Linked DNA regions of Homo sapiens. The protein of the gene in region 2 purifies or fractionates together with the protein of the main gene of each other region. This does not show direct contact. Each region holds a gene or a part of one and is shown on either strand. Other genes may lie near its edges. The genes, in order: OXSR1, SSH1, PPTC7, AFG3L2, PGM3, CORO2A and PALD1.

Evidence for each region.
Region 1: the proteins of SSH1 (region 2) and OXSR1 purify together in Homo sapiens (affinity purification with mass spectrometry, with the first as the bait; one large-scale study listed by BioGRID). This does not show direct contact.
Region 3: the proteins of SSH1 (region 2) and PPTC7 purify together in Homo sapiens (affinity purification with mass spectrometry, with the first as the bait; one large-scale study listed by BioGRID). This does not show direct contact.
Region 4: the proteins of SSH1 (region 2) and AFG3L2 purify together in Homo sapiens (affinity purification with mass spectrometry, with the first as the bait; one large-scale study listed by BioGRID). This does not show direct contact.
Region 5: the proteins of SSH1 (region 2) and PGM3 purify together in Homo sapiens (affinity purification with mass spectrometry, with the first as the bait; one large-scale study listed by BioGRID). This does not show direct contact.
Region 6: the proteins of SSH1 (region 2) and CORO2A purify together in Homo sapiens (co-immunoprecipitation; one large-scale study listed by IntAct). This does not show direct contact.
Region 7: the proteins of SSH1 (region 2) and PALD1 purify together in Homo sapiens (affinity purification with western blotting; one study listed by BioGRID). This does not show direct contact.

The regions. Positions count from the first base shown.
Region 1 is NC_000003.12:38,171,649-38,175,791, forward strand, and holds part of OXSR1 (serine/threonine-protein kinase OSR1), read left to right. Parts: intron 1-4,143. UniProt on the Homo sapiens protein: Effector serine/threonine-protein kinase component of the WNK-SPAK/OSR1 kinase cascade, which is involved in various processes, such as ion transport, response to hypertonic stress and blood pressure.
Region 2 is NC_000012.12:108,854,521-108,859,100, reverse strand, and holds the start of SSH1 (protein phosphatase Slingshot homolog 1), read left to right. Parts: upstream 1-1,517; 5' UTR 1,518-1,604; coding exon 1,605-1,673; intron 1,674-1,806; exon of another isoform or gene 1,807-4,580. UniProt on the Homo sapiens protein: Protein phosphatase which regulates actin filament dynamics. Dephosphorylates and activates the actin binding/depolymerizing factor cofilin, which subsequently binds to actin filaments and stimulates their disassembly.
Region 3 is NC_000012.12:110,541,644-110,545,786, reverse strand, and holds part of PPTC7 (protein phosphatase PTC7 homolog), read left to right. Parts: intron 1-4,143. UniProt on the Homo sapiens protein: Protein phosphatase that plays an essential role in mitochondrial metabolism and biogenesis. Positively regulates biosynthesis of the ubiquinone, coenzyme Q. Dephosphorylates the ubiquinone biosynthesis protein COQ7 which is likely to lead to its activation.
Region 4 is NC_000018.10:12,356,241-12,360,383, reverse strand, and holds part of AFG3L2 (mitochondrial inner membrane m-AAA protease component AFG3L2), read left to right. Parts: intron 1-332; coding exon 333-457; intron 458-1,440; coding exon 1,441-1,714; intron 1,715-3,552; coding exon 3,553-3,690; intron 3,691-4,143. UniProt on the Homo sapiens protein: Catalytic component of the m-AAA protease, a protease that plays a key role in proteostasis of inner mitochondrial membrane proteins, and which is essential for axonal and neuron development.
Region 5 is NC_000006.12:83,175,916-83,180,058, forward strand, and holds part of PGM3 (phosphoacetylglucosamine mutase), read right to left. Parts: intron 4,053-4,143; coding exon 3,895-4,052; intron 2,842-3,894; coding exon 2,758-2,841; intron 146-2,757; coding exon 47-145; intron 1-46. UniProt on the Homo sapiens protein: Catalyzes the conversion of GlcNAc-6-P into GlcNAc-1-P during the synthesis of uridine diphosphate/UDP-GlcNAc, a sugar nucleotide critical to multiple glycosylation pathways including protein N- and O-glycosylation.
Region 6 is NC_000009.12:98,126,638-98,130,780, reverse strand, and holds part of CORO2A (coronin-2A), read left to right. Parts: intron 1-890; coding exon 891-987; intron 988-2,061; coding exon 2,062-2,174; intron 2,175-2,520; coding exon 2,521-2,611; intron 2,612-3,957; coding exon 3,958-4,143.
Region 7 is NC_000010.11:70,537,124-70,541,266, forward strand, and holds part of PALD1 (paladin), read left to right. Parts: intron 1-687; coding exon 688-783; intron 784-1,156; coding exon 1,157-1,285; intron 1,286-1,768; coding exon 1,769-1,885; intron 1,886-1,968; coding exon 1,969-2,124; intron 2,125-2,456; coding exon 2,457-2,639; intron 2,640-3,978; coding exon 3,979-4,119; intron 4,120-4,143.

The DNA.
Region 1 (4,143 bases), on a different chromosome or scaffold from region 2:
ATTGAAAATTCAAAGGACTTTTTTTTTTTTTTAAAGAATTGTATCACCTTAAGCATGCTTTGGCAAGATTTGAAGTTCTTTAAGTATGATTATGTGTAAAAGATGTTAGTATCATTCTCACAATTAATCATTGATCTTTCAGTATTTTTGAGCCCTTAGTCTTAGATTAGAATTTCTGAGCATGTGTTATACTGTATTTGGCATGTGTTGAAGCAGCTGTAAAAATTTGGGCTTTGGGGTTAGACTGACCCAGATTCAAATCCTGACATTGCCTCTTACTAGTTATGTGATCTTAGACAAATTATATGATTAGTTTCCGTGTCAGCTTTTTGTCTGTATAGTGGGGAGAATAGTACCTATGTCACTGGGGCCGTTATATAGATTGAGTGTAATTATTTGTGGGAAGTGTTTAGCTTGTATAAAATGATAGTTGTTATTATCTCTGACTTTTTTTTACCCTTCCCCTTGTCCTCATATTTCCCAATTTTTGGTATTGCCATGAAATATGAAATACTATGTGATGTGAAAGCTTGTGACACTTAAAATAGTTTGAATCTGTTTTTAATGCTTAGTGGAACATTATTGCATTTATTTTATTTTCGCATCTTTTTTTTTCTTAGTCCAGGCCTCATTCAGGTTTAGATGGATTTAGGGATTTATGTTGGACATCGTAGTATAACTGTAAGGACCATCACCATGATATTGCTAATAATACAATATGATGGCAGAGAGGGCTGTGCCAGTTAGGTTTTATTGCCCTGCATCTTGAAAAGTCTCAATAAGTATTTACTATTTACCTCAGACTAGAAAATTGAAAACTTAATACTAGGTTTAAGGTGTGATTCACCTAGCTTTGACACTTTGAAGGCAGTGCAATATATTTCTATTCTTGACTTTCCCTTCTTTTTATTTTCATTGATTGTTTACTAGCCACACATTTTGAGTTTAAAGTTGTGGTTTTCAAATACAGATTCCAGGGCCTTACCTTTAGCGCCTCCATAAATGTGAAGGACTTCGTGCTTTCAATAGAGTGGTGCTTAATAGTGTATTTTTCCATTGATTGGGAGACTCAGCTAAGGTGACATTTTCTATGAGGCCAGCATTGGGCCAACAACCTCATAGTGTTGTATCAAATAAGGCTTACATTTCTCTGCATGTGGGGAAAATGGAAATAATAGTGGCTTAATAAAATCCTTTTTCCCCCTTATATAACAAGAAGACTGGAGGTGGCAGCCTAGGTGCTGTCAGGCACCCAGGCTCCTAGTTTTTTCATGCGACCACACTTAGCAGGTGACTCTCCTTCTCATAGTTGGAAGATGGTTGTTCCACCTCTAGACTCATGCTTGTGTTCTTGTCCAGAAGAATATGGCAAAAGGACAAAGACACATGACAGCTGAGTTGGTTCTCTTTTAAAAGGCTTTCTTTCCTAGATGCCTTACTCAGTGACTTCCACTTCTATTTTACTGGCCAGAACTGTATAATTTGGTCATTTGCAAGGCAGACTGCAAAATGAAGCTTTAGCTGGACACATTATTACTTCAAACAAAATAGGTCAGGATTATCTTACTAAAGAAGGGGAAATTGTATGTTTGCTAAGCAACTAAGAATATTGGCCTCATTTTTTTTTAAAATGAAAATAGTCAAATAGGGTATTGCAAGTAAATAATTTAACCTGATGCATAGTAATCAGTTAATAAATGTTAGCTTTAATCTGAAGAGGTAGTTGCCTACTGATTAAGAGCATAATGTTGAAACTCAGGTAGTTCTTATTTCTAGGCCCTACTCTGCCTAACTAACTGTATGACCTAAGTTTTACCTTAATTACATTGCTTTACTTACATTGTCTTGTAAGACCATGAATACCTATCACATGGAATTATTGTAATGATTAGATGAAAAGAAGAAATGTAAGTAAAGAAAGTGCTCAGCATAGACTTGGCACACAGAATGGATGCTCAGTGAATGTTAATGTACATGATGGTAACGATGAAATAACACCCATGAAGACTGGGCTATTTCTGTGTGTGTTCTGCCCCAAACAAGATTTTTTTTCCTTGAAAATATACCCCACTATGTGATTAATTCATTCAGCAAATATTTCTTGAACTCCTGTTATGTGCCAGGCACTGTTCTGGATGCTGGAGATAAAACAATGAAGCAAACACAAAAAATGCCTGCTTTCACAGAGTTTATAATCTAGAAACTCTAAAGAAGAAAAAGCAGGGAAAGGGGTTAGGGACTGCTAGGGGTGGAGGTGGGGTTTCAGTTTTAGGTCAGGGAAAACCTCACTGAGAAGATGACAGTTGAGGAAAGACCTGAAGAAGGTGAAGAAGTGAATGATGTGGTTATCTGCAGGAAGTTTGTTCCAAGCAGAGGACAACAAGAACAAAGGTTCTGAAGCAGAAGCATGCTAATGTGATTAAGGAATGCTAAGGAGGTTTGAGGGCAGCTAGAGCAGAGTAAATCAGAAGGTGAAGAGACAGATAGGTGAAGAGGTTAGAAAGGTAAGGTGGTATGGATGCTTGGTCCTGATTGTCAGGTTGTAAGTTGTTGTAGGAACTTGGCTTTTGCTTTGAGTAAGACTGAAAATCATTGCAGGGTTTTGAACAGAGATTTAACGTGACCTGACTTTCGTTTTAAAACTCAGGCTGCAGGCTGGGCGAGGTGCCTCACCTGTAATCCCAGCACTTTGGGAGGCGGAGGCAGGTGGATCACATGAGGCCAGGAGTTTGAGACCAGCCTGGCCAACACGGTGAAACCCCATCTCTACTAAAAATACAAAAATTAGCTGGGTTTGGTGGTGCATGTCTGTAATCCCAGCTACTCGGGAGGTTGAGGCATGAGAATCGCTTGAACCCGAGTGACAGAGGTTGCAGTGAGCCGAGATGGCGCCACTGCACTCCAGCCTGGGTGACAGAATGAGACACTGTCTCAAAAACAAACAAACAAACACCTCAGGCTGCAATATGAAGAATAGTTTTATAAGGGCACAAGGGTGGAAGGAGGTTATCCAGGGGAGAGAAGTAGTAGTGGAGATGGTGAGAAGTGGTCAGATTCTGGATATAGCATATTTTTTGAAGTTAGGAGGATTTGCTGTTGGATTAGATGTGAGAGAAAGGGAAGATAAGATGATTCCAAGATTTTTGGCTAGAGCATCTGGAAGAATGGAGTTGCCATCCGCTCAGATGGGAGATCACCAGAGTGAACAGGAGAGCGAGTGATGATTCATTGCAAAACCATCAGGCTGCTTGAATACTTACTTGAAGCATATGGCAGTGTCTTTATTTTCATCTTTGTATGGAGAGAATAGCATGATTTTTATGATGATGACTATTCTTACAGATGTTTTGCCAGTTAATTTTCAACATGACTCTGACAAGAGACCTTATTTAGAAAAGGGGTTAACAAAATTGTAAATTCTTATGTTTTGTGTGGTTCAGGTGACAATACTTTAGTCATCTTTCAAAACAGCCTGGGCTAGTGCTTTTCTTCAGTGAATGCAAAACCTTACTAAAATATACTTTAAAATCTTTAGACTATAAGCCTATTATAGTGATGGCTGGGCACAATTTAGGAGAAAATGTGTTCATTTGATTTGATTCATTTAATTCATTTTTTCCTGACAGGAATATCTACTTTTACATTATCTCTCTCTTTTTTAAAAAATTTATTTTTGAGGTGGGGTCTCGCTCTGTTGCCCAGGCTGGAGTGCAGCAGTATGATCATGGCTCACCTCTGCCTCCCAGGTTCAAGCCATCCTCCCACCTTAGCCTCCCAAGTAGCTGGGACTACAGGCGTGTGCCACCACACCCGGCTAATTTTTGTATTTTTTTGTAGAGACGGGGTTTTACTGTGTTGGCCAGGCTGGTCTCAAACTTGTCAGCTCAAGTGATCTGCCTGCCTTGGCCTCCCAAAGTGCTGAGACTACAGGTGGGAGCCACAATGCCCGGCCCTACGTTCTCTCTCTTAAATTTCTAAGTTTAGTAAAGCGGAGAGAAACTGAAATTTTTTCTTAGTCCTGCTCATGCTTGGGCAGATCCTTCTCTGTCTCAAGAAGTAGAGTTACCCAGTTTGAAAGATTTAAGGAGAAGTTTCATCCATATTTTCTGCACATTAATTTATTCTGCTGTGTGACGTAGGCTA
Region 2 (4,580 bases):
ACATTCCCACAAATCCCCTCTTAGAAACGCTCCGTAGAAGCTACAGTGCCCCCCACTAGAATCACCTTTGAGATGAATCGTGCTGAGACCCTGTGAATAACATGGAGGAGGTCACAGCCCCAGGACAGAGGGAGGGACGGGGAAGAATCCAGGAGGCTGCGTGGGTTTCCTGTTGGGCAGTAAGACAAATTTGCTAAGCTGCGGGGCAGGCTGGGACCACTGCGTTTGCGAGTGCTTGTGCAACATGCAGAGGTTGGGGGTGGGAGCCGGGAGATGAGATTTTGGCTAAAAGAAAAGTTTCCTACTACTAAGTCAAGCCAGAATTGCCTTCTTGGTATCTTATTCCATGTTCCCCTCTCCATCCCCATAACTGGTCACCTCTCCCCGGGACAACAGCAGCAGCCTCCTCCCTGGTCTCCCTCAGCCCTCTGCCCCGTGGTCCCTCATCCACGCAGCAGCCGGAGCGATCTTTCCAGAGAGGATGGAGACTCCAGCCATTCCTCCCCTCTTCCCTTCCCTGAGTGCTGGCCTCCGGTTGACAAACTTCTTCCTGCTTCAGGGCACGCTGATCCCCCCTGCTTGGAGAGCTGTCTCTCTGTTCTTTCACCTGTTAATCCTGCTTATGCTCAAGCCCAAGCCTCAGAATAAAGCTCTTCTGGGAAGCCTTCCCTGACCTCCAAGGAGTTGGCTGGGTTTCAGAACACCCAGAAAGAATTCATTGAAAAAGATTAGCAAAATACTTTTTTAAAAACGTGCCTAATAACTTGATTAACCTCTGCAAAATCAGGCGAATCTATTTTGCTTACTGTTTTTGTTTTTTGTTTTTTGTTTTTTTGAGACCGAGTCTCGCTCTGTCGCCCAGGCTGGAGTGCAGTGGCGCGATCTCAGCTCATTGCAACCTCCGCCTCCCAGATTCAAGCGATTCTCTTGCCTCAGCCTCCCGAGTAGCTGGGACTACAGGCGCGCACCACTGCGCCCAGCTAATTTTTGTCTTTTTAGTAGAGACGGGGTTTCACCATGTTGGCCAGGATGGTCTCGATCTCTTGACCTCGTAATCCGCCCGCCTCAGCCTCCCAAAGTGCTGGGATTACAGGCGTGAGCCACCGCGCCCGGCCCCAGGACGTCTTTTATTTCCTGGTCGCTGTACAGTCCTGTCTGCACGGTCGCCGGGCCTCAGTTTCCCCAGGCAGAGCAGCGGGCAGGGCCCCTGGGGCGTACGGGCTCCGGGCGGCGCGCGCGCCCCCGAGTCCCAGGCCTGATAGCGGGGCGCGCGGGCGGGGGCGCGTGTGTCGGGCGCGCGAGGGACGTGATCGACCAGCCGAGGCCTCGGGCAGCCCTCAGGGCCCCCGCGCACGCGCGCCTCCTCGTCCCGCCCTGCCCGCTTCCCCGCCCACTCCGCGCACTGAGGCCTGCGCGCGCCGGCGCGGGAGGCGGGAGCTGGGGGCGGGGGCGGTGGCGACGCCGAGGGGGAGGGGCGGGCCCGGCCCGGCTCGGCCCGGCCGCCCGCGCGCGGCTCCAGGAGGCCCCGGGCCCGGCCCGGGCGGCGGTGGCGGTGGCGGCTCTAGCTCGAGACGTCTGTGGCGCCCTCGCACCGCGCCGCAGCCATGGCCCTGGTGACCCTGCAGCGCTCGCCCACGCCCAGCGCCGCCTCCTCCTCGGCCAGCAACAGCGAGGTGAGCCCCGGGCTCGCCGCGCCCGGCCTGGGCCGCCGGACGCCGCGCCGAGGCCGCCGGAGCTGGGGCCGCGCGTGCGGGGCAGGGGGGCGGCTGCGCGGGCTCCTCGGGGCCCCGCCGTAGGAACAGAGCCGGGCAGCCGGACCGGGGTGACCGTGCGAGGACTGTGTGCGATGTGACCCTGTCTTGGGGAGCTGTGCGGGGACTTTGTGTGCGGTGTGACCCCTATCGGGGGGCGACTTTGCAGGGACTGTGTATGCAGTGCGACCCCTCTGGGAGTGTCTGCAGGATACTGTGTGTGCGCTGTGACCCACATCAGGGGGTTACCCCCATCTTGGGGTGACCCCTGTTAGGCGGAGACTGTGTGCGTTGTGACCCCTAAGGGTGACTGTGCAGAGACTGTGTGTGCAGATGTGACCTCGTGATTGTGTGGGGACTGTGATTTCAGGTGTGACCCCCATCTTGGGTTGACCTCTGTCTGGGGAGGACTGTGCGTCTGTCGGGACTCCCATTTGTGAGTGACTCTGCAGTGTGACCAGGGTCCAGGGGTGACTGGATGTGCAACTGGGACCCTTGATTGGGTGACTGCGTGAGCCGCTGGTTCTGAGACCTGTGGCCGGGGTAGTTCTAGGCCCTTTGCCTGTATGCCTGGCTGTGCGATGTGAGATGTGACTGTTGCTGACCTGCCGTCCGGGGACTGTGCCAGCGTGAGACAGGCATCTGGGAGTGCCCCTACAAACGTGTGAGATTGTTTCCCCGCCTGCCGCCTCTGGAGTTCTGTCTGTAGGCGTGCCCGTGTCACTGTGTGACGGTGACCGAGCGTGCTGTGGGCTCTGTGTGGCTGTGTTTCACGTCTGTGCGTGCAGCCTTAGTCTGGCTTTTCCTTTCTGTAACATCACTCAGGCCTGTGTGTTTATGTGCATCTATCTTTCTGTGTGGCTGTGACCCATTCTGGGTGATTGCATAGGTGCATTCCTGGGTTGCGTGTCCTGGCACTGTGCGCGTTTTTGTGGGTCTGTGTGTGGCCCAGGTCCGTTTGCCTGGCCACTTTTTCCTCTGGGGTTGATTGAGGGCACTGTTGCCCTCTTAGCCTGCAGGGTTGGCCTGGCTTGTCCTAGGCTGGGGCCTTGGGCCTCTGAGCAGGTCAGCCCTCTGTAGCTGCAGGGATGACCCTCTGGTCGCGCAATCTTGCCCACCATCTCTTGAAGAACCCGTCAAGGCCTCTGGTCTAAACTCTTACCTATAACAAGGCTGAGTGTCCGCCTGCAGACCCTTAGCTGTGTTTAGAGAAGACTGGAGGAGCGGCCCTGCGGTCCCAGGCCCAGGAAGTTCCGCAGCCAGCATCTGGGCTCTTCAGCCCCTTTCTTTGTGGGAGGGAGTGGGGGAAGTTGACTGATAACACGGGGGAGGTTTGTGTGTCTGAGAGAGACAAGAGAATAATGTTTGCATTTGGCTTGACAGCCCTGTCTCCTGGTAGGGTAGTTCTTCAGCCTTGTTTTGCTGGGATTGGCAGGGACATTTTCAGAGTGGCTGGGAAGTTGAACCTTCACAGCCCCCTCCTTGGAGAGGAGAGGCCATTCATGAGTTATCTATACACAGAAGGTTCTAGTAATCCCCCTCTACACGCTGATTAGAGGCAAAAGAACACTGGCGATCAATAGCCTGCTACTGAGAAGTTAGGTTGCAGGAGCGCCTTTCCTTCCCACAGCGAGGAGGGGCTGTTTTCTGTTCCGGTCACTGCTGTCTGGCAATTTATGCACTTAATCTCAGGTTCTCATCACAAAAGTTTATGTGAGGTAAGGGGAGAGGTTGGCTTCAGGCTGAACCTGTCAGCCCAGATTTCTGATTCAAAACCCCATGTTCCTAGAGTTACTTGCAACCTAATCTGTTCTTGTCTTACGCATTTTAAGGTCTTATTATTTTTTAGTTACATACCATAAATTTGCCATTTTAAAGTGTACAATTCAGTGGTTTTTAGTATATACATGAGATTGTGCAACCACCACCATCTAATTCCAGAACATTTTCATCCTCCCCAAAATAGGAACCCTGTACCCGTTAGCCCTCACCTGCAGCCTCCCCCTGCCCCATTCTCCCTAACCTTAGGCAACCACTAATCTACTTTCTGTATCTATGGATTTGCTTATTCTGGACATTTTATATAAATGGAATCACACCCTGTGTGGCCTTTTGTGTCTGGCTTCTTTGACTCAGCATCACGTTTTCAAAGTTCATGCATATTGTAGCATGTGGCAGTACTTCATTCCTTTTCATGGCTGTATAATACTCCATTGTATGGATGTACCACATTTTGTTGGACATTTGTGTTGTGTCTACTAGATACATTTTCAATTATTATATAAAGCATTATTTTTACCAAGTGCCAATGACCCTGATAAACATAAAGTAAAACTCAGGCAGCTTTTATTTGATCATAGCAAAGCTGCAGCATTCATTGCTTGGCTTTGAATGCGCTGGGATGTTTCCCGAAGGCAAGGCCCTCGTTCAGATGTGTTGAGGTGAGAAGCAAGGTGGGATGGAGACAGCAAGTGTGTATGGGGTCAGGAGACCTAGGCCAGGCCGGTTCTGCCCTGGTCCGCCCTCGCTTGAGTTGCTTCCTGTGTGTGGGCCCTGGCTCATCTAAAAGGACTGAATTACCTCTTTCATGTGTTCCTTGGCAGATGTAGTTTCCCTGGAATAACTGACCTGAGATGGCCTTTCATCTGAGAACCTCAGAGAGTGACCGAGAGTTAAATGATTGTGAAGTCCGTACCCCCAAGTCACGTCATCACTCTTCAAATTGCAACTTCATAATGAGTCAGACACTTAGGGCAGTGCTTTCCTGACACAGCCAGGCCTGCTGCCGGCGTGGGAAACGGGGGATCACAGCCCTCAGTCCTAAGGCTC
Region 3 (4,143 bases), 1.7 Mb from region 2:
CATGAAAAGAATACACTGAGAATGTTCTCATCAAGAGGACCTTTTAGTTTAACTTTGAAAGATACTTTTCTGGAACTAGATAATCTAGCTAAGTGGAATTCTGATAAATACCCAATAATTTGACAAGACCATGAAAATACTATTTCAGGCTTACAGAATATCAATTTTTCATATCAACACCACATGGTACATACAGTACTTTATTAAATTGTGCTGGAGAAATGAGTCATTGTTCATGCATGCCATTGCTTGTACAAGATTTTGCATACATTGTTAGGGAAGAGCACAAACAGACATCTGCGTTATTTATTGGAGTAACTTCCTGATTCTCTAGACCTCTTACTACATGCATCAAATAGAACTTGCAGGAAATGGAGTCAAAATGGTCTTAAGTGACTGGGCACGGTGACTCACGCCTGTAATCCCAGGACTTTGGGAGGCTGAGGCGGGTGGATCACTTGAGGCCAGGAGTTCAAGACCAGCTTGGCCAACATGGTGAAACCCCATCTCTACTAAAAATGCAAAAATTAGCTGGGCGTGATGGCGGGCGCCTGTAGTCCCAGCTACTCAGGAGGCTGAGGCAGGAGAATCGCTTGAACCCAGGAGGCAGAGATTGCAGTGAGCCGAGATTGCGCCACTGCACTCTAGCCTGGGTGACAGAGCAAGACTCTGTCTCAAAAAAAACCAAAACAATAAAACCAAAATGGTCTTGAGGTGGGCACAGTGGTGTAGGACCATAGTCCCAGGTACTTGAGAGGCTGAGGCTGGAAAATCGCTGGAGTCCAGCCTGGGTGACATAGTGACACCCTGTCTTTTAAAAAAAGTGGTCTTGGATATGTTCTTTGATAATGTTATTGAGGTGTTCTCTTTTTCTTTCTCACATCTTTTCTCAGTTCACTTTTAAATTGTCAAGAACGTTCCAAGATGCTGCTTTTTTTCCCCGCCCCTTCTCTGAGACAGAGTCCTGCTCTTGTTGCCCAGGCTGGAGTGCAATGGCATGATCTCAGCTCACTGCAACCTCCGCCTCCTGGTTCAAGCGATTCTCCTGCCTCAGCCTCCCAAGTAGCTGGGATTACAGGTGCCCGCCACCATGCCTGGCTAATTTTTGTATTTTTAGTAGAGACAGGGTTTCACCATGTTGGCCAGGCTTGTCTCAAACTCCTGACCTCGTGATCCACCCGCCTCGGCCTCCCAAAGTGCTGGGATTACAGGCATGAGCCACTGCGCCCAGCCAAAATGGTGCTTTTTTTGAGTTGACTTTTACAGTTTATCTTTTCTTAGATGAGTGTCCAGAGTAAGGCAAAGCCTCAGATTTCAGTGTCTTTAACAATCTTATAGCTTTATAGGACCTGGCACAAACATCACTGGCAATTCATAAATGTTGATTAATGGACAATGAACCTTTTGTAAAAATAGAAGCATTCTAGCAAGTACTTGTCTCTACTTAATAGCTCTCATTAAACCATCTCTTAGGTCCAAACTAAGATAAAATGAATTATTATTGCCATCTTTTAAACTGGAACGAGCATGTTATGTAATTAAATGTTCAGCATTGCCCATCTAAAAATTTAGCAGTAAAAGTAACTTTTACCGGTAAAAGTCTAAATATTCTTCCAATTATGGTCACCAGTCTAAATCCAAAAGTAAAAAGTAAAAGTAGGCGGGTGACCATAATTGGAAGAGTATTTGATTCTAGGCCCTTCTAAAGTTGGCTGTAATCTACATTATTGTTAGCCACACTGGAGTGGGGAGAACTCTGAACCCCAAGGCCTCCGTAGAGCCCAAGCTCAGATCACAGTTTTTGGAGACTGGTGCTTCAATTTTTTCTTCATTTGATTCTTCTTGTTGGGCTTCCAAGCACCAAAGCAGCCCTGCCATATCTCACACACTGTCTGTGGGACAGACAGGTTGGGGCAGTACTCTGCCGGCATGCCAGCGAGGTGGAGGTGGCTTCCCCTAGAGCCCAGAGACAGCTCGCTAGCATGTGATTTCAGCTCATGTTTCAGTGCGGTCAAAAGTTTCCAGCAGCACAGTATGTTCAATCAAAATGGGCAAAACTGCAGCTGGCAGAACACCAAGCTCATGGGTGGGAGTGTTAGGAGAGGACGAACTGTCCAATGGGAGCAAGACTCTCACAGACAGAATAGCAAAGGACACTTCTGGGGAAAGAAAAACCTCAGCATAAAACAGAGCTTCAGTGCCAACCTGGTCATTAATCTACACTTCTAGAATCTGATTAGCTTTCAAAGGCTGAGCAGATGAGAGCGTCTTGCATTGTTTTCTCTTTATTCCACAGAAAGAATTGACCTGATTTCCCCCAGTTTTACAGTCTTTTTCCCTTTTTTTTTTTTCATGCTGCATGTATCTCCTTAGTTAATGGTCCCTCTTATCTACAGAATATTATTTTAACCTTAACTTACAGGTTTTCCTTTAGTAGACATTTTTACAAAATGTTGATTATCTAAATATGTAAGTGAAAGTCGGTTCCCTGCAGCAGCACATGGCAGAACTTTACATGTGCCACCTTTTTCCTCAGTCAAGTGAAGATGAACCAGAAATTTTCTGAGTGCATTTAGTGTGAATCCTCATAGGCATGTGTGCTTTTGTTTGTTAGTTTTTATGCTTTCTCTTCACAAATGTTGTCACATGTTGCTTACACAAGTGTTGGGGTTTTTCCGTGGAGCTTAGGGTGCTTTGGATCTGGTGCCTCCCTTCCGGGTCGGTATCTGATTTGCTTTCCTGGCTCTTGTTCCTTAATTACAGATTAAGGCGGATTATCAGATCTCACCTTTCCCTCCCCAGGGAGGCCTGGAAGGAGGGAAACTGGCCTTAAGAAGTCGCCAAGAACCAGCCTCAGGAGGCCATGATCTCTGAATATAGGATCTTTTCTCCCCACCCGGGGTTTTCCCCCATTTTTATGTCTGTTTTCATCAGGCATTGTCAGAGAAAAAGATCTTCCATCTGTTTTTTTTTTCAAGAGTTGTACACAAAAAAGTTTAGTGAGACATCTGCCTCCTGTTCCTGCCCTTAGCCACATATTCTGTCCTCAAAGGTTTCTTTATGAGCAGTTTCTTTAGTTTCTTTTTCTTTTTTTTTTTTTTTTTTTTTTTTTTGAGACAGAGTCTCGCTCTGCTGCCCAGGCTGCTGGAGTGCAGTGGCGCAATCTCGGCTCACTGCTACTGCTGCCTCCCTGGCTCTAGCAATTCTCCTGCTTCAGCCTCCCGAGTAGCTGGAATTACAGGTGTGCACCACCATGATCTAACTTTTTGTATTTTTTAGTAGAGACAGGGTTTCACCATGTTGGGCAGGCTGGTCTTGAACTCCTGACCTCAAGTGATCTGCCCACCTTGGCCTCCCAAAGTGCTGGGATTACAGGTGTGAGCCACCACCCACAGCCCGCTATGAGCAGTTTCTTTGATTCTCTCCAGATCTATTCCCTGCATATAGAAGCATCCATGTCTGTGTGTCTTTCTGCCTTTTTTTTTTTACGGAAATGGTTGCACATACGACACACCGTCTTCACCTTGCTTTCTTCAACAGTATATTGAAGAGTTTTTTCCCCCAATTTGGAGAGTCAAATATTTTGCTGCTTCATTCAGTTATGCAACAGATATTTCTTCTATTTTTTTTTTTTCTTGAGATGGAGTCTTGCTCTGTTGCCCAGGCTAGAGTGCAGTGGCGCCATCTCAGCTCACTGCAACCTTCAGCTTTGGGGTTGAAGCAAGTGATTCTCCTGTGTCGGCCTCCCAAGTAGCTGGGATTATAGGCGCACGCCACCATGCTTGGCTAACGTTTGTATTTTTAGCAGAGATGGGGTTTCACCATGATGGCCAGGCTGGTCTTGAACTCCTGACCTCAAATAATCTGCTTGCCTCGGCTTCCCAAAGTGCTGGGATTACAGGGGTGAGCCACCACGCCTGGTCAAGATATCAAGATATTTCTTGAAGACGTGTTACATGAGGCACACTAATAAATACCTACGTATGATGACCACTTTGGGACCCTTGGGAGACACAGAGTCCTTACTATGCCAAAATACTGTAGCTATTTCCGGTGAATGTATTCTTTTTTTTTTTTTTTTTTTTTGAGACGGAGTTTAGCTCTCGTTGCCCTAGCTGGAGTGCAATGGTGCAATCTCAGCTC
Region 4 (4,143 bases), on a different chromosome or scaffold from region 2:
AGGAAATAGAGGAAGAGGGAAATAATGCATATTTATTTTAAAAAGGATTACGTTTTCAAATAGGTTTTTCATTCTGTTTTTTGAGTTTATAATTTTAGAGCCACTGAGATATTGCTGCTAAAGAAATGCTTATTTGCCAAGAATTGCCAAGTGTTCTCAATGAGTGACATTTAATCACCACCATTATTAAAGCCAGTCTTTTATTATTGTTTATTCTTTAATTTATAAATTTTCAGTATTTCTGGAAAATTCTTAAAAAGTTGAACCGTTTAGTGAATTGAACCTTTTAGTTTCACTACATTCTTAGGATATTTGTTTTTTTGTTTTTATAGCAATACGTTTGGTTTAATATTGGCAGTGTGGACACCTTTGAACGGAATCTGGAAACTTTACAGCAGGAATTGGGCATAGAAGGAGAAAATCGGGTGCCTGTTGTCTACATTGCTGAAAGTGATGGGTAATCTCAAATATAATATTTTGTAGACTGTTGACTGTGCTGCCTGTGGTTCACTGTGTTCTGTCCCTGGGTGCAGGGCTATACATTATATTCTCAAACAGGCCTTTATCAGTTTGGCCAGATTTTTAAAAAACTATTAGTAACTCACTAGTTTTTGCATGACTCATTCATTTTCTTTTTTTTTTGAGGTGGGGTTTCGCTCTGTCGCCCAGGCTGTAGTGCAGTCGTATGATCTTGACTCACTGCAACCTTTGTCCCCACCCCAGTTCACGCGATTCTCCTGCCTCAGTCTCCAGAGTAGCTGGGATTATAGGCTTCCACCACCATGCCCAGCTAATTTTTGTATTTCTAGTAGAGGCAGGGATTCACTATGTTGGCCAGGCTGGTCTTGAACTCCTGACTTCAGGTAATCCACCTGCCTCCGCCTCCCAAAGTGCTGGGATTACAGTTGTGAGCCACCACACCTGGCTTTTTATCTTTATTTTTATTTTTATTTTTATTTTTGATTCATTCCTTTTGTACACATTTATACTTATCTTGATGAAGCAGTGGTTTAGGGTATTAACATTCAATGCATTGACCTTTGGTAGGATTTTAGCATAAAGAACCCCTTTGTATCAAAGAGTGCCATTCCCATCTTTGAACTATCATTTATGTTTACATTTCACAGTTTTCCAGGATTTTTAGGTGATTCTTCTCTCATCAGAACTTCTTCTTTGGGGGTTGTCTTTAATAAGACCATGTTAGTAACCCCACTTAAAGTCTGGGCAGATGCTCCATTTATTTCGAAGAGTTGGTTGCCATGGAGCTTATTTGGGAATTCTGTTGCCTTTGAAGAACACTTGCAAGTTACCCTCCTTTGTATTAAGTGCAGAAGGTATACCTTGGTGTAGCTATATATATTTATATTGATATCTTGCACCACATGTGAAAGCTGGAGGTGAGCAGCCAGTCCTAACCCGTGTTGCGCTGTGTGTCCCCAGCTCTTTTCTGCTGAGCATGCTGCCTACGGTGCTCATCATCGCCTTCTTGCTCTACACCATCAGAAGAGGGCCTGCTGGCATTGGCCGGACAGGCCGAGGGATGGGCGGACTCTTCAGTGTCGGAGAAACCACTGCCAAGGTCTTAAAGGATGAAATTGATGTGAAGTTCAAAGATGTGGCTGGCTGTGAGGAGGCCAAGCTAGAGATCATGGAATTTGTGAATTTCTTGAAAAACCCAAAGCAGTATCAAGACCTAGGAGCAAAAATCCCAAAGGTAAAATGAAATTTAAGATTAACTTTTTGAAATGTTTCTTGATCTCTGAAGTTATAATTCTGTGAAGTTTGATTACTTATTATAGATAGCTGTTTTTCTGTCCTTCCTCTTTCTCAGCTTACTAGGCTAGCCTCTGCCCAACTCGAGGATCGTTTTGGGTCAGTTCTGTGTGCATGTGTCTTGTATAGTGTATGTATTCCTGAAAATATCTGTGTCACCTCCTCTTGGAAGATTTTCTTGATTCGTCTTCCTTTTCCCTCCAATCTGATTTAGATGCCCTATCTCTCAGCAACTGTAGGCCCGCTGTAGCTCACTGACAATGTCACACTCTGCTGTCACCCAGTGTCCCTTCGAGGGATGTATGTGGACAGGACACCTGTGCTGGCGCTGAGGTTCACGGCACAGGATCCAGTGGAGAGGACACAGCACTCACCATCACCTTCCCCTTTCCAGCAAATATGCTCTTGCCCACTGTGCTAGTGGTGGGCTGTACCCTACAGGGCTTGGTGCCCCTAGGGCTAGGCGTGGAGCATTAACTTCATATTTGTTAAATGGATCAGCTATTAAGTAAATGAATAAAAAGGTATAATTCTTTTAAAAGTCCATGAATAAATTTTACTTTAAAGGAATCCTTTGAAAGATAATCATTTCCTTGATTTTTATGTCTTACTTCTATAGATAAAAAGTCATATTTTATGAATTTATAACTTACTTAGTACCCGTTTGCATTACACCTAACTGTCTCTACAACTTAATATAATAGTTGTGTAGGGCCAGGCGCAGTGGCTCACTCCTGTAATCCCAGCACTTTGGGAGGCTGAGGTGGGTGGATCACCTGAGGTCAGGAGTTCGAGACCAGCCTGGCCAACATGGTGAATCCCTGTCTCTACTAAAAATACAAAAAATTAGCTGGGCATGGTGTTGTGCGCCTGTAATCCCAGCTGCTCAAGAGGCTGAGGCAGGAGAATCGCTTCAACCTGGGAGGTGGAGGTTGCAGTGAGCCGAGATCGTGCCATTGCACTCCAGCCTGGACAAGAGTGAAACTCTATCTCAAAAAAAAAAAAGTGTATTGTTTGAGCAAACACATCTTTCTTTGAAGTTAAGTTCATCATTGGTCGTTAGATTTCTACTTCATTTGTGAAACTTTTAAAGAAGAAAATAAGCAAAATTTTAAAAATACCTTAAGGTTTTATTACAAAGCCTAGAAAAAATATCATTTGACCATATTATCTACCTCCTCACAGTATTTGGATATGGTAGTGTGGTAGTATGTCTATAAATAAGAGAGGATACTGTTTGTGGGTAGTCAGTGGAAATAAAAACAAATTCACAGTTAGGTTTTAAGTTGCACGTCCAACCATGCTAAAAATGTACTGATTTGTACATGAAAGTAGAAGTCAGAAGTTGGGTTTATTAATTATTTGAGCTCAAAAACCAATTTTACTTGTAAAGAGTAAAAGAATTACATAAATCAGGAGTGTGGTGTTGGTGTCTTCTTAAATTATTTAAGTAAACCTTAGCAGATTTATTAGTATATTCCTAGCCCAAGTCACCCTTTACATACTGTTAGACTAAAGGTCTAAAAATCAGCCCTAGGAAAAAAAGGAAATATTTTAAATTTCACATTCTTACCAAATTTTTTGAAACAAAATTATTTTTGATAATCTTTTTATTCTTACTAATATAAAAATGTTCTACCATAGCTCAGATGTTTAAGTAATATTTAATATATATCAATAAGATTTAGAGACAGAGTTATATCTTGTAATTATTTGTGGATACACAATTTACTTTTCTGGAATTCTCATTAAATGTAATTTCTTTTTTCATATCTGAAGGGTGCCATTCTCACTGGTCCTCCAGGCACTGGGAAGACGCTGCTAGCTAAGGCCACAGCCGGAGAAGCCAATGTCCCCTTCATCACCGTTAGTGGATCTGAGTTTTTGGAGATGTTCGTTGGTGTGGGCCCTGCTAGAGTGAGTCTCATTCTGTTCGGATGGTACAGCTTCCTTGCACCCACCACTTCACCACAGATGGAGGCACTTGCTAGAGATGGCCCTTCCCCCTAGAGTGCTAGAGTGACCTCTCACCAGTCCCTGGCCTGAGCTCTCCTCCAGGCCTAAGACTTCAGCAAGGCCTGTGACTTCCACCCCACCTTCCCTCGCACCAGCTAGGACTGCAGTCTGCTACCTATAGTAGACCAATTTAAAGAATTGACGGCTGGGCGCGGTGGCTCATGCCTGTAATTCCAGCACTTTGGAAGGCTGAAGTGGGTGGAACGCTTGAAGTCAGGAGTTCGAGACCAGCCTGGCCAACATGGCGAAACCCTGTCTGTACTAAAAATAGAAAAATTAGCCAGGCGTGGTCGCGCATGCCTATAATCCCAGCTATTTCGGAGGCTGAGGCAGGAGAATCTCTTGAACCCAGGC
Region 5 (4,143 bases), on a different chromosome or scaffold from region 2:
TAAAGAAAAGTGCCAGCTAAGGCCAACTATAATTAAGAGAACTTACAGTGCCATGCCCATTTGCTTCAAAATAAACTCCAATGTCAAACTCTTGAGCCTTGTGGTGCAAATGTTTTACACCAGTCTTAGTGCAATAGACAGGTACCTATAACACATGCATTTAAAGAAATACAGCAATTACTCAGATGTCAAATGTTTCTTGCATACCTAGTATCCCAGAGATACAAAGGGGAACAAAATACTGGGGCCGAGTCCAGTGAGGAAGACGATTAAGCATTAAAATACAAAATGGTACGTATACAATGGAAGCATGAACACACTCTGGAAGCACGCAGCCAAGGGTAAAGCACGGTGAGAGAGATGAGGGTCTCCTTATAAGACACGAAAGATTACAAGTGGGGGCGTGACATGACCTAACTGTTTTAGAAAGCTGTTTAGCTACAGTGTGGAGAATAGCTTAGAGCAGAATTGCAAGCTTTTTCTGTAACAGGCCAGACAGTAAATATTTTAGGCTTTGCAGGCCATATGGTCTCTGTCACAATTACTCTGCCATTACAGTGCAAAAGCAGCCACAGACCATACATAAACAAATCAACATAGCTCTATTCCAATAAAACTTTGTTTGCAAATAGCAGCAAGTTCAATTAGAAGGTTAAGAAATGGAATGAGGAGGCTTCTAGGACTAATCCCAGTAAGAAATAGTGGCTGGATCAGCAATAGTGAATAGGGAAAGTCATGGATGGATGGATCTGAGAGAGCTTTAAGAATGGTTAAGGAAAGATTGATAGTAGAAAAACTGCAAAAGAAAGATCAGCATTAGATTGGATGTAGGAGACCTCAGGAATGGCAAGGGCTAAAAATATTTCATCTGGAAGACAGTGAGTTGAGAAGTAACAGTTTCTTAAACTAGGTTATTTTATCTGTAATAAATTTTTAAGACAGAAAATGAAAATCCTAAAACAATAACCCAAGTACTGTGAAATAACCCAATCCCTGTGAAAGGCAGGCAAATGGGCCCCAGATGGAATCCCTTGAATGAGCTTATTATAACCATATATTAAAATCAGGTCATAAACTAGCAGCCTCAAGATATATTTCGTTTTGCCCAGCCACTGTTTCTTTTTAAACAAATAGGAACATCACATGAAAATTCAGATTTCCTGCTTCTCTTGAAGAGTGTGACTACAGTTGACATCAGCTGGCACATACTGACCTGTTTTTAGCCCCCTGCTGCCCTCATTCACTTTACCTGTCCAAATCCTGCAGGAATCTGACTTTGTAATTCCTGCTTTCTAGAGAATGGAAAGGTAACTAAAACTAGTATAAATGCCAGAACGAGGTACAAAATGAGGTACAAAAAAGTTGGAAAACTTCTCGATAATGAGAAAGTATAGGCAAACAGACTTCCAGTTTTGTCCATGAACCCTGGTAACTCTCCGAGCAAGTAGTGTGGTGCCAAGGGTGGTCACCTGGTGGACACCGGGGAAATAATTAGAAACAGAATCTCCCACCACCCCAGAAAACCTCTCCAAAAAAAAAAGAAGGGTAAGAAACAGTTTTATTACTGAATAAGTATTAAGCCAAACTGATGTTCAATCACAGGCTAATTTGCTAAGAGATAGCAAAGATAAACGCTCACCCTTTAATATAGCCAAGCGGACACATTCCAATACAATTTGCTAAGATAAAAGATGGCTAATGACAAAAATTCTCTCCTTGACCAAACTTTAGTTAGGTTTAGGTGGGCCTGACTAGGCCTTGTCCTTAGGCATGTCTTCCAATAGCCCGATTTTAATAAGAGTCATGCTAAGTGAGCTTAGCGAGAATCCCTCATCCTGATACATGACCACTCTTGACATCTGATCTGAGTTCTCATTCTCTACCATCCCCCAGGTAATATGTGACCGCCCTGGCCTACCTTCAGCAAAAGTCCTGTTAGATCAGTTTAGCCAAAATACCACCCACTTACCCTCATGTTTCCTCTCAGTAATTTTTCATCCACTGACCACCCCCCACACACCCTGCTCCTTGGCTATAAAGCCCTACTTTTCCTTACTATATTTGGAGTTGAGCCCAATCTTTCTCCTACCACTGCAAAACTCCATCACATTAGTCCCTGTACCTATCACAACAGTCCTGAATCAAGTCTGCCTTACCATTTTAACAAGTGTCATGAATTATTTTTTCTTTAACACTAGTCCTCAAATAGGAAAACTTGAAACCACCATTTGTCACACACATAGTTTATCCTAAACTTACTTGGTAATAGGGATGGCCACCTGTGTTAACTGCCCTTCTCTAAAGGAGTAATAAAACTTTTCATACCTCTGTGACAGGTAGATAGTTACAAATTGGACGCAAACACCTAAGTTAAACTCTCCTGAGACTGGGAGATAGGTGAGCTATCTTCCTTGATGTTTATATTTGAAATTGGTGACTCTAGGCCCTTAAAGAAAAGTATTCCTGAGCTATAAAACTGGCTTATTAGGCCTTTAGAAAGACTTACATTCATTACAAAGGCACAGAGAAAGAATTCCAAGTTTTCTAAAGGAAAACTCCAAGAAAAGGAAGGAAAGAAGTTTTCCTTTATTCATCAAGGACAACTAAATTTTTTCTTATTTATTTCTCTTTACCTTTACATGAACAGCAGCTCAGCTTCATGCACTACAACATAATCACTTTTATGAGGGCAGTATCTTTCTCACAGAAACATGATCTTAATTAAGAAACTACCAGAAAACAAAAATGGTTCAATACCTTCATAACTTCTTCAAGATACCGTGTTGAACTTCCATTTGCATATGCAGTTTGTACAACACCAATATTCAAACTTTCTCCAATCTAGACAAAAACAATGATACTTAACTTGCCATCAAAAGTATGGTCTACAAAAACAAATATAATGAGAGTTCTAAAGGCTACCAAAATTATCAGCCAGTTCAGTTGTGCCTTAGTTTATGCCAAAAATGTCTGACTGAAAATTTACATGTATGCCAGGAAAAAAGCCTAAAATACATTTGAACACTATTTAAAACAATTCTATGAGAATTCCTCTTTTAAGAAGCCTGTATCTCCTGATCTTCACCTCTTTAATTTTTTAAATAAAAGTATCTGGCCAGGCACGGTGGCTCACGCCTGTAATCCCAGCACTCTGGGAGGCCAAGGTGGGTGGATCACCTGAGGTCAAAAGTTCGAGACCAGCCTGGCCAACATGGTGAAACCCCATCTCTACTAAAAGTACAAAAATTAGCCAGGTGTGGTGGCATGCATCTGTAATCCCAGCTACTTGGGAGGCTGAGGCAGAAGAATTGCTTGAGCCCAGGGAGGCAGAGGTTGCAATGAGCCGAGATCACGCCCCTGCACTCCAGCCTGGGCAACAGAGCAACACTGTCTCAAAAAAAAAAAAAAAAAAAATCTATTAAATTCTTAAAGTATGCTGTTTCCAGATTATAATAATTTCCAATTACATTGTGTACTTAAAGCTAGCCTGAGATTTATTTCTAAAATAGCAAAATGAAACAAATCTCACATTACTAAGCTTATCATAATCAGTTAATATATCAGATGATGAGATTTCCTATTAGAATTTAGGGCTTTTATGGAGTGACCACAGAACTGTCATCAAAGTTTCAATTATGATGGAAGCAAAACTTCCTAAAGCTTCAAATCACAAAACTCAGCCAGTATAAGGAGGAAAAGAGTACCTTCAGGTTCCAAAGCCAATGCCTCAAATGTTCAAATGACTGGGTATTACCACTGCTCTTTTTTTAATTTTCTGCCCACTAATGTAAAGAATTTGTCATAAATTGTGCCCTTCTGACAAATGATTGTAAAATATGGAACTATTTCACTACTAAGTCTTGTTTTAGAGGGTAGCCAATCCCCCCACCATACCTCCACCAGGAGCTCTTTAAGGAAACTGCTAATTAACGTTGCTATCTTGTCTCCATCTATGAGATGAAAGTGGCCATCTGCATCATGGTAGTAATAAACAATTCTGTCTGCATCTCCATCAAAAGAACAGCATCTTTCATTGGACTTAATTTCCATTCCTAGCACACAGGATAATTTAACATGCATTTCAGTCTAAGAATTTATTATAAAGAGTTTTAGAATTTTCTCTTAAAATTATCCACCTAAAAA
Region 6 (4,143 bases), on a different chromosome or scaffold from region 2:
GCTCTGGCTGGACACCTTGACCTTGTCTCTTCCCAACTCCAGGCCCAGATGTGGGGGGACCATTGGTGTTTCTCAGCAGGGGCACCTGCTAAACTGGGGGCAGAACAGGTCTCCACTGGGTAGGACTATCCCATGTCTGGCAGCCCTGGCCCCTGCCCACCAGTGCCAAGAACAGCATCTCTCCCCCTCCATCCAAGTCATTATGACAACCAGAAATGTTCCCCATGGTAAGACCTTCTGGATGACCTCTGAGGCCACCCCAGTTCTGACTTTTGCTGCTGCTCTCAGATAGGAGCGGGATTTGGACTTGTCTTCCCAGAGCTTCTGTCTTAGAGGAAAAAGGGTGGGCTTTGGGTCATGGTGGGGGAGGATTGAATATTAAAATAAGGGCCCAGGCCCAGCACAGTGGCTCATGCCTATAATTCCAGCACTTTGGGAGGCCAAGGTGGGAGAATCACTTGAGCCCAGGAGTTCAAGGCCAGCCTGGGCAGCATAGTGAGACCCCATGTCTACGAAAATGAAAAAATAAAAAATTAGCCAGGCGTGGTGGCACACACCTGTGGTCCCACCTACTCGGGAGGCTGAGGCGGGAAGATGGCTTGAGACCAGGAGGTTGCAATGAGCTGTGATTGCACTACTGCTCTCCAGCCTGGGCAATAAAGTGAGACCCTGTCTCAAAAAAATAAGATAAAATCTAAAATAAAATGAATATCCCCTCATCACCCTCCTGCCTTGATGACAGGGCCCCCAGTTTCCTGGTGTTCCCTTGAGTGAGATGGGTTTGCCGATCATCAAAAAAAGCCAGGTCTTTGCTGCATGGCTGGGTTGCTGATGAGCTGATGAGCTCCAGCTCTGAATCTCACCCTCCTCTTCCTTCTCCTCCTCCTCAGGGAGATGGCAACATCCGCTACTACGAGGTGAGCGCCGACAAGCCTCACCTGAGCTACCTGACTGAGTACCGCTCCTATAACCCACAGAAGGGGATCGGTAAGTGAGGGACACTGAAGTTCATGCCTGTAATCCCAGCACTTCGGGAGGCCGAGGTGGGAGAATCAGGGTCAGGGCTTCAGTGCGGGGTCTGGGGAGACAGGGATGAGTCAGATGGGAGGAGAGACAGCATAGCAACACTCTGACTTGGTGGGGGCTGTACTTGACGTGTGCAACAGCACAAAGGAGGAAGTCAGGGAAGGCTTCTCAGAGGAGGCAACATTGGAGGAACTGAAAGAGGAAGCAGAGCCCAGCAGGGGAGAGAGGGATGTGTTCTAGGTCAAGGTTAAGCAGTTACCACAAGAGCAGAGATGGAAAGGGCTGACCTAGAAGAGCCTCTAGGAAGCAGTCCTCAGTTCCTTTCTAAGTGTGCTTGAGGATTAAAAACACAGCTATATTTCTGTAATCTACAAGAAACCCACTTTAAACATAAAGACATGGCTAGATTAAAAGTAAGGGACTGGAGAAAGATGCACCCTGCTAACCCTACTCAAAAGGAATCTGGAGCGGTTTGATTAAGAGCATTTGGGTCACAGGAGCTGTGGGGATGGAGATGGGGAACCTTAAGCAGAGCAAACTGCCTATAAAAGTTCAGCTAATCCAGCACTTTGGGAGGCCAAAGCTGGAGGATCACTTGAGCCTAGGAATTCGAGCCTAGCCTGGGCAACAAAGTGAGACTCCTGTCTCTACAAATAAATAAAAAAATTGAGGTGCATACCTGTGGTCCCAGCTACTTGGGACGCTAAGGCAGGAGGATCGCTTGAGCCCAGGAGTGTGAGACTGCGGTGAGCTATGATTGTGCCACTGCACTCCAGCCTGGGCAACAGAGTGAGACCTTGTGTCAAAAAGAAAAAAATTCAGCTAAAATAATTTAAATCTTTGAAGGTGAAGAGTCTGATTAATTCAACTCCATTTCCCAACATAGGGCCCAGCCCAGTGTCGGTATTTGTCCCTGAGCTGTTTTCTGGGAGGAGACTGGTCTCTGTTCAGGTCCAGGTGTGCAGCCTGGCTTTGGCCCTAACACTGTGGCCCCAGCCTAGCCAGAACCTCTTGGCCCTCCCTGTCTGCCTTCAGGTGTCATGCCAAAGAGAGGACTCGACGTGTCCTCCTGCGAGATCTTCCGCTTCTACAAGCTGATCACAACCAAAAGCCTCATCGAGCCCATCTCCATGATTGTGCCCCGGCGGGTAAGGGCAGTCGGGACCGCATGGGAGGCAGGTGGGGAACCTGTCCTGGAGAAGACAGACCCAGGGCTGTCGGGCACCAGAGCCTGGAGCCCACGTTCATGGGGCAGCCACAGAGCGGCCTTTCTCACAGCCAGTGTGACATCAGTGGGCGTCAGGAGTCCTGGGTCTCGGTCCACCTCTGTTCTTGAGCTGCTGCGTGACCTCGGGCAAGTCCCTTTGTTCTCTGGGCCTCAGTTTCCTCAATTCAGCAGGGGTTGGTGAGAGCCTGGACTCCCAGGTCTAAGGGCCTTTCCCATCTGAGCAGCCTACCCTACCACCCTCCTCACTGTCTGGATTTCTCCTGCAGTCAGAATCCTACCAAGAGGACATATACCCTCCAACAGCAGGGGCCCAGCCCTCCCTGACGGCCCAGGAGTGGCTCAGCGGGATGAATCGAGGTGAGGAAGGCAGAGAAGAGGCCCAGGCAAATGTGACAGGAACATGGCGTGCCCAGTGGCCCCAAGCAATTGAGAGGGGTTGGGCCTGGATTTTTCTTCTCTCATGACCTCAGAAGCCATGCCCTTGACCTTCAGTCCCCAGTGGGTAGCATGGTCACATACAGGTCCAGAAAGTCAGGGGGCTTGACCCAAGAGCTCAGAAAACTCCAACTCAAGGGACTTTGCCCCACGGAAAGCTTCTTTACACTCTGGGGCTATGTGGGGTGCCTGGACCACCTCAGCCAGACTCCCTGTCCCTGTTCCCCACCCCTACCTCTGCAATTCTTTTTTTTTTTTTTTTTTTTTTTTTTTTGAGACAGAGTCTCGCTTTGTTGCCCAGGCTGGAGTGCAGTGGTACAATCTCAGCTCACTGCAACCTCCACCCCACCCCCAGGTTCAAGTGATTCTCATGCCTCAGCCTCCTGAGTAGCTGGGACTACAGGCACGTGCCACCATGCCCAGCTAATTTTTCGTATTTTTAGTAGAGATGGGGGTTTTGCCATGTTGGCCAGGCTGGTCTCAAACTCTTGACCTCAAGTGATCCACCTGCCTCGGCCTCCCGAAGTGCTGGGATTACAGGTGCGAGCCACTGGGCCTGGCCTTTTGCAATTCTTCTTGACCCAAGAAGCCCTCCAGGCAGCAACCCCCACCCAGGTCCCTCTGCCCACTCTGCCTGTCCTGAGCCACTCTCCCGCTCCTGCCAACACGGGGGCCAGCCCAGCAGAAGCAGTCACCCCAGCTGCTCCCTCTCCCTTCCACCCCCACAAACTTCCTTCACCCCCACCCCAGTGGCTGAGCGGGCCTCCTGGTGTACTGGAAGAGCCTCTGCCTTGGGGGGCAGCGGACCAGGGCCGAGTCCTAGTTTTGGATAACCTTAAGTAGGTTTTGCTCCCTGGGCCTCAGTTTCCTCATCTGTAGCCATGATGCCAGCCTCCCCTGCTTTCTGGAGGTGGTGAGAGAACTAATGAACTTGGTAGATGGTGGGGTGCAGTGTGGGTGGGACTGTCCTTACAAAGCAAGGGCAAGGTCTCATGTGAGTTTGAAGTGTTTGGGGGCTGCTTCAGTGCACGCACCGTGCTGTTCCTACAAACCAAGCTTCACTCTGAGGGTGGCACACGTGGGTATTTGTATCTGTTAGCCCTGCTCTGTGGGTTTGGGCCTGTCCACAGGTAGCTGTATTTCCCACACATGTTGCATGGGTCTGCATGGCTCTGAGTGTCTCTGCATGCCTGCCTGTGTCATTGGTGCCCCATATGCCCATCTTCCCGTGGGCACCCCGTCCTCACATGGCTCTGCTTCCCTTCCAGACCCAATCCTGGTGTCCCTTAGGCCTGGCTCTGAGCTGCTGAGACCCCACCCACTGCCTGCAGAGAGACCTATCTTCAATTCCATGGCCCCAGCCTCACCCCGGCTCTTGAATCAGACAGAAAAGCTGGCTGCAGAAGATGGCTGGAGGTCTTCCTCCCTGTTGGAGGAGAAGATGCCAAGGTGGG
Region 7 (4,143 bases), on a different chromosome or scaffold from region 2:
TTGAGACAGGGTCTCACTTTGTCATCTGGGCTGGAGTGCAACGGTGAGATCATAGCTCACTGGAGCCTCAACTTCCCAGGCTCAAGCGATTCTCCCACCTCAGCCTCACGAGTGGCTGGGACTACAGGCATGTGCCACCATGCCTAATTTTTGTATTTTTTTATAGAGATGGGGTTTTGCCATGTTGCCCAGCTTGTTTTGCACTCCTGAGCTGAAGCGATCTGGCTGTCTCAGCCTCCCAACGTGCTGGGACCACAGGCGTGAGCCACCGCACCCAGCCAGGTTCCAGTTCTTAAGGGAGGGCCTCTGGCTCGGGGGTGTTCACACACTTGGCTTCCTCAACACAGAGGGTGCACAACCCTGACCTGTTGGGTGTCGCTGGAGCTAAGTGAGGGAGCCCCTGCCTGTCTTGGCGCTGGGAGCCTGCTTGGGGAGACCAGCCCTGCACCTAGAACCACAGTGCCTGGTGTGGTCACCCACATATCTCCCCTGACCGCAGATAACCACAGCATCTGGGATAGGGTGAGACACTTAGAAGAACTTACAGCCTGGCAGAACTGTGTCATGAAGGGAGGGAAAGACTGTCTTCTGGGGAGTTCCAAGGCTTAACTCCTGCCCTTGCAGGGATGGGGACAGGGACAAGACTGCCTGAGGAGTCTGTCCTTAACACCCTGTCCTCTCTCTCAGGGAAGCGGCAGCCGACACAGCGTCTGGCAGAGGGCGCTGTGGAGCCTGGAGCGATACTTCTACCTGATCCTGTTTAACTACTACCTTCATGAGCAGGTGGGGCCTGGGAGGAGCAGACCCACGTCCCCTCCTCCTGGGCCTCTCCCAGCCTCCCCACCGCAGTGACTGGCTTGCTGTGGAGGGAGACCCCCCAAGGAACCGGGGAGGGAAGGGAGGCCAGGAGAGACCCAGATTCGGGAGTAGTCCCTGAGCAGCTGGGCATAGGGAGGCCCCACCTCTTTCCACCGGGCCCTTGTCTCTGTCCTTAACCAGGACACCAGACGTCCAGGTCTTCTCTCAGCCACTCCCTTGTCCCTGCTCTGGGCCATGTTGGATATCTTTTGGGGCTTCCCCTGCCATGGTGTGGGCAGGGAGGGTTCAGGATGGCCCTGTGCCCCTGAATTCCTCGTCTCTCTGCCTCGGGCTGCAGTACCCGCTGGCCTTTGCCCTCAGTTTCAGCCGCTGGCTGTGTGCCCACCCTGAGCTGTACCGCCTGCCCGTGACGCTGAGCTCAGCAGGCCCTGTGGCTCCGAGGGACCTCATCGCCAGGGGCTCCCTAGTGAGTATGACTGGCAGTCGGAGAAGTGGGCATGGCTGTGTACTGGCCCTGGCCCCTAAACACTGGATTCCTGTAGGGTTGGGGTAAGCATTGCCCTTGCAGGAGGTGAAGAAGAGAGGCTGTGGGTGTTGGGATCCTCTTGTGAACAGAATGGGGTCATGCTTAGGCCCCAGCAAGCATTTGCAGCTTTGGCAGCTGTTCTGGTACCTTCTCCTCAGTCTCAAACCCAAGAGCTCTGGGCAGGGTTCTATGATCTTTGCCTCCAGCTTCTTCTCTTTGAGCCTCAGCTTCCTGGTCCAGAGAGTGGGCACCATTGCACTTCTTCTTGCCAGGGCCGGGGGAAGCTCCAAGTGTGCAGGAGTGCTTTGTAAACTGTGAAGCTCGGGTTCCACCCCACCCCCCGTCTGCCTTGGGCCAGGTCCTGACCCTTTCTGCGGCTACAGTCGGCTGCTGTGGGTCCCAGGCTTGGTGCTCTCCCCACAGCGGGAGGACGATCTGGTCTCCCCGGACGCGCTCAGCACTGTCAGAGAGATGGATGTGGCCAACTTCCGGCGGGTGCCCCGCATGCCCATCTACGGCACGGCCCAGCCCAGCGCCAAGGTGACCGGCCCTCAGGGCCTGGGTCCCCCAGTGGGTTTGGGGAGGGAGGGCTGAGCACTCACTGCCGGCCCTCCTGTGCCCAGGCCCTGGGGAGCATCCTGGCCTACCTGACGGACGCCAAGAGGAGGCTGCGGAAGGTTGTCTGGGTGAGCCTTCGGGAGGAGGCCGTGTTGGAGTGTGACGGGCACACCTACAGCCTGCGGTGGCCTGGGCCCCCTGTGGCTCCTGACCAGCTGGAGGTGAGGCCCCCTGCCCTCTAGGCACCCCTGCCTCCGAGGCTTCTGGGGAGTGGCCTGGGAGGGTCTTCAGAAGGCCTCACACTCCCGCAGACAGATGGAGAATCTGAGGCCCCGGGAGGAGCAGTGTCAGGGAGTGGCCAACTCAGGATTCCCACTAAAGTGCTCTGCTAACCTGCTTGGCTTTGGGGGGTGGCTGTGACCCCTGAGGCTTGGGGGGGTCAGGGATGGGACTGGAAGCCAGGGCCAGGCCTGGCCATGGCAGGCTGTGGCCTTTCAGGGCTAGCCTAGAGCCTGCCCCAGTGGCCTGTGTCCTCCCTCCTGCCCTTGCCCAGACCCTGGAGGCCCAGCTGAAGGCCCATCTAAGCGAGCCTCCCCCAGGCAAGGAGGGCCCCCTGACCTACAGGTTCCAGACCTGCCTTACCATGCAGGAGGTCTTCAGCCAGCACCGCAGGGCCTGTCCTGGCCTCACCTACCACCGCATCCCCATGCCGGACTTCTGTGCCCCCCGAGAGGAGGTGAGGGTGCTGCTCAGGCTGAGGCCTCTGGGGAGGGACAGGAGGCCTCCCTGTCTCCCCTCTGGTCTGGGCTCTGGGAGAATGAAACGACCCCAGCTTCTCTACGGGGCCCGGGAATGGTCTCACGAGGTTTTCCGATTTGGCCCAAGTGGTTTATTCACATTCCTTCCAAGCTTTGTGTGTGTGTACGTGTGTTTATTATGTGTTATAGGGTATATGTGTGTGTATTGTTATAGGTGTGTGTGTATTGGAGTGTGTATTCTGTTACGTATGTGCATATGTGTTATAAGATGTGTGTACATGTGTTTATTATGTTGTAGGGTGTATGTGTGTGTATTGTGTTATGGGTGTGTGTTATAGGTGTGTGTGTGTTATCGGGGTGTGTGTGTATTCTGTTACAGGTGTGTGTGTGTATTTGTTATAAGGTGTGTGTGTGTGTTGAGGGTGAACATGTCCAGGGTGTCCGTGGTGTGTGTGTCTCAGTTGGGGGACTGTGTATGGAGTGTGTGGGTGGTGTGTGGAATGTGTGTGTGTGTGCATGTCTTTTTATGGAGTTTGTGATGTCTCCCTTGTCTGTATTGGGGGCTGTGTGTGGAAAACCATCTTTAGGGGAGTGGTGTGGTGTGTGGTAGGGTTTGTGGAGGGGTCGTTAGGAATGTGTGTGTGTGGCATCTGTAGGTCTGTGACTGTGGGTGTCTGTATAGTGTGTGTGTTTACCGGACGTGGATCCCTGTGTGGTGCGTGTGTCTGGCGTGTGTTGTAGGTGAGCCACCGTGTGCGTGGTGCGTGTGTTGTAGGTGGGTCGCTGTGTGCTGTGTAACTGGCAATGGGGTCTGTTACCCTGCCTGAGCCCCTCCTGGCGCATCTCTTCGCGGCTCTCACTGCCTGCGGTCTGCTGCCTCCTGGTGGCCTTGTGCTGCAGGGCTCTTCTGAGGTCAGGCCCCCGTCCATGGTGGGACCAGGGCTGGGTCCAGCTCAGGTGGGTGGCAGGGCCAGCAGTCTATGTGCAGCCCAGGGGCGCAGTACACAGGGGTGACATACAGGTGCATGTCCTGCCTGATGGAGGGTGGGTACCTTGAGCCCCAGGTGCATGCTGTGTTGGCTCACACATCCTGTCCAGGTGCTTGGTGTGAGGGTGATTACGACTGCACAGGTGCAGCTGTTTACACGCACATGGTCTCATGCACCCCGGTGAGTTTTGTTTGTGTGTGCAAGCTTGGGAGCCTGACAATTTCTGGCCCGAGGACAGTGGCTGGGGCTGCCATGTGGATGGGGACCCTGTTGGGGTTTGTGCATCCAAGAGACGCCCGCTGACCCAGACCTTGCTTTTCTCGTCCAGGACTTTGACCAGCTGCTGGAGGCCCTGCGGGCCGCCCTCTCCAAGGACCCAGGCACTGGCTTCGTGTTCAGCTGCCTCAGCGGCCAGGGCCGTACCACAACTGCGATGGTGGTGGCTGTCCTGGCCTTCTGGCACATCCAAGTACGTGTGGCCTCTCAAGTGAGA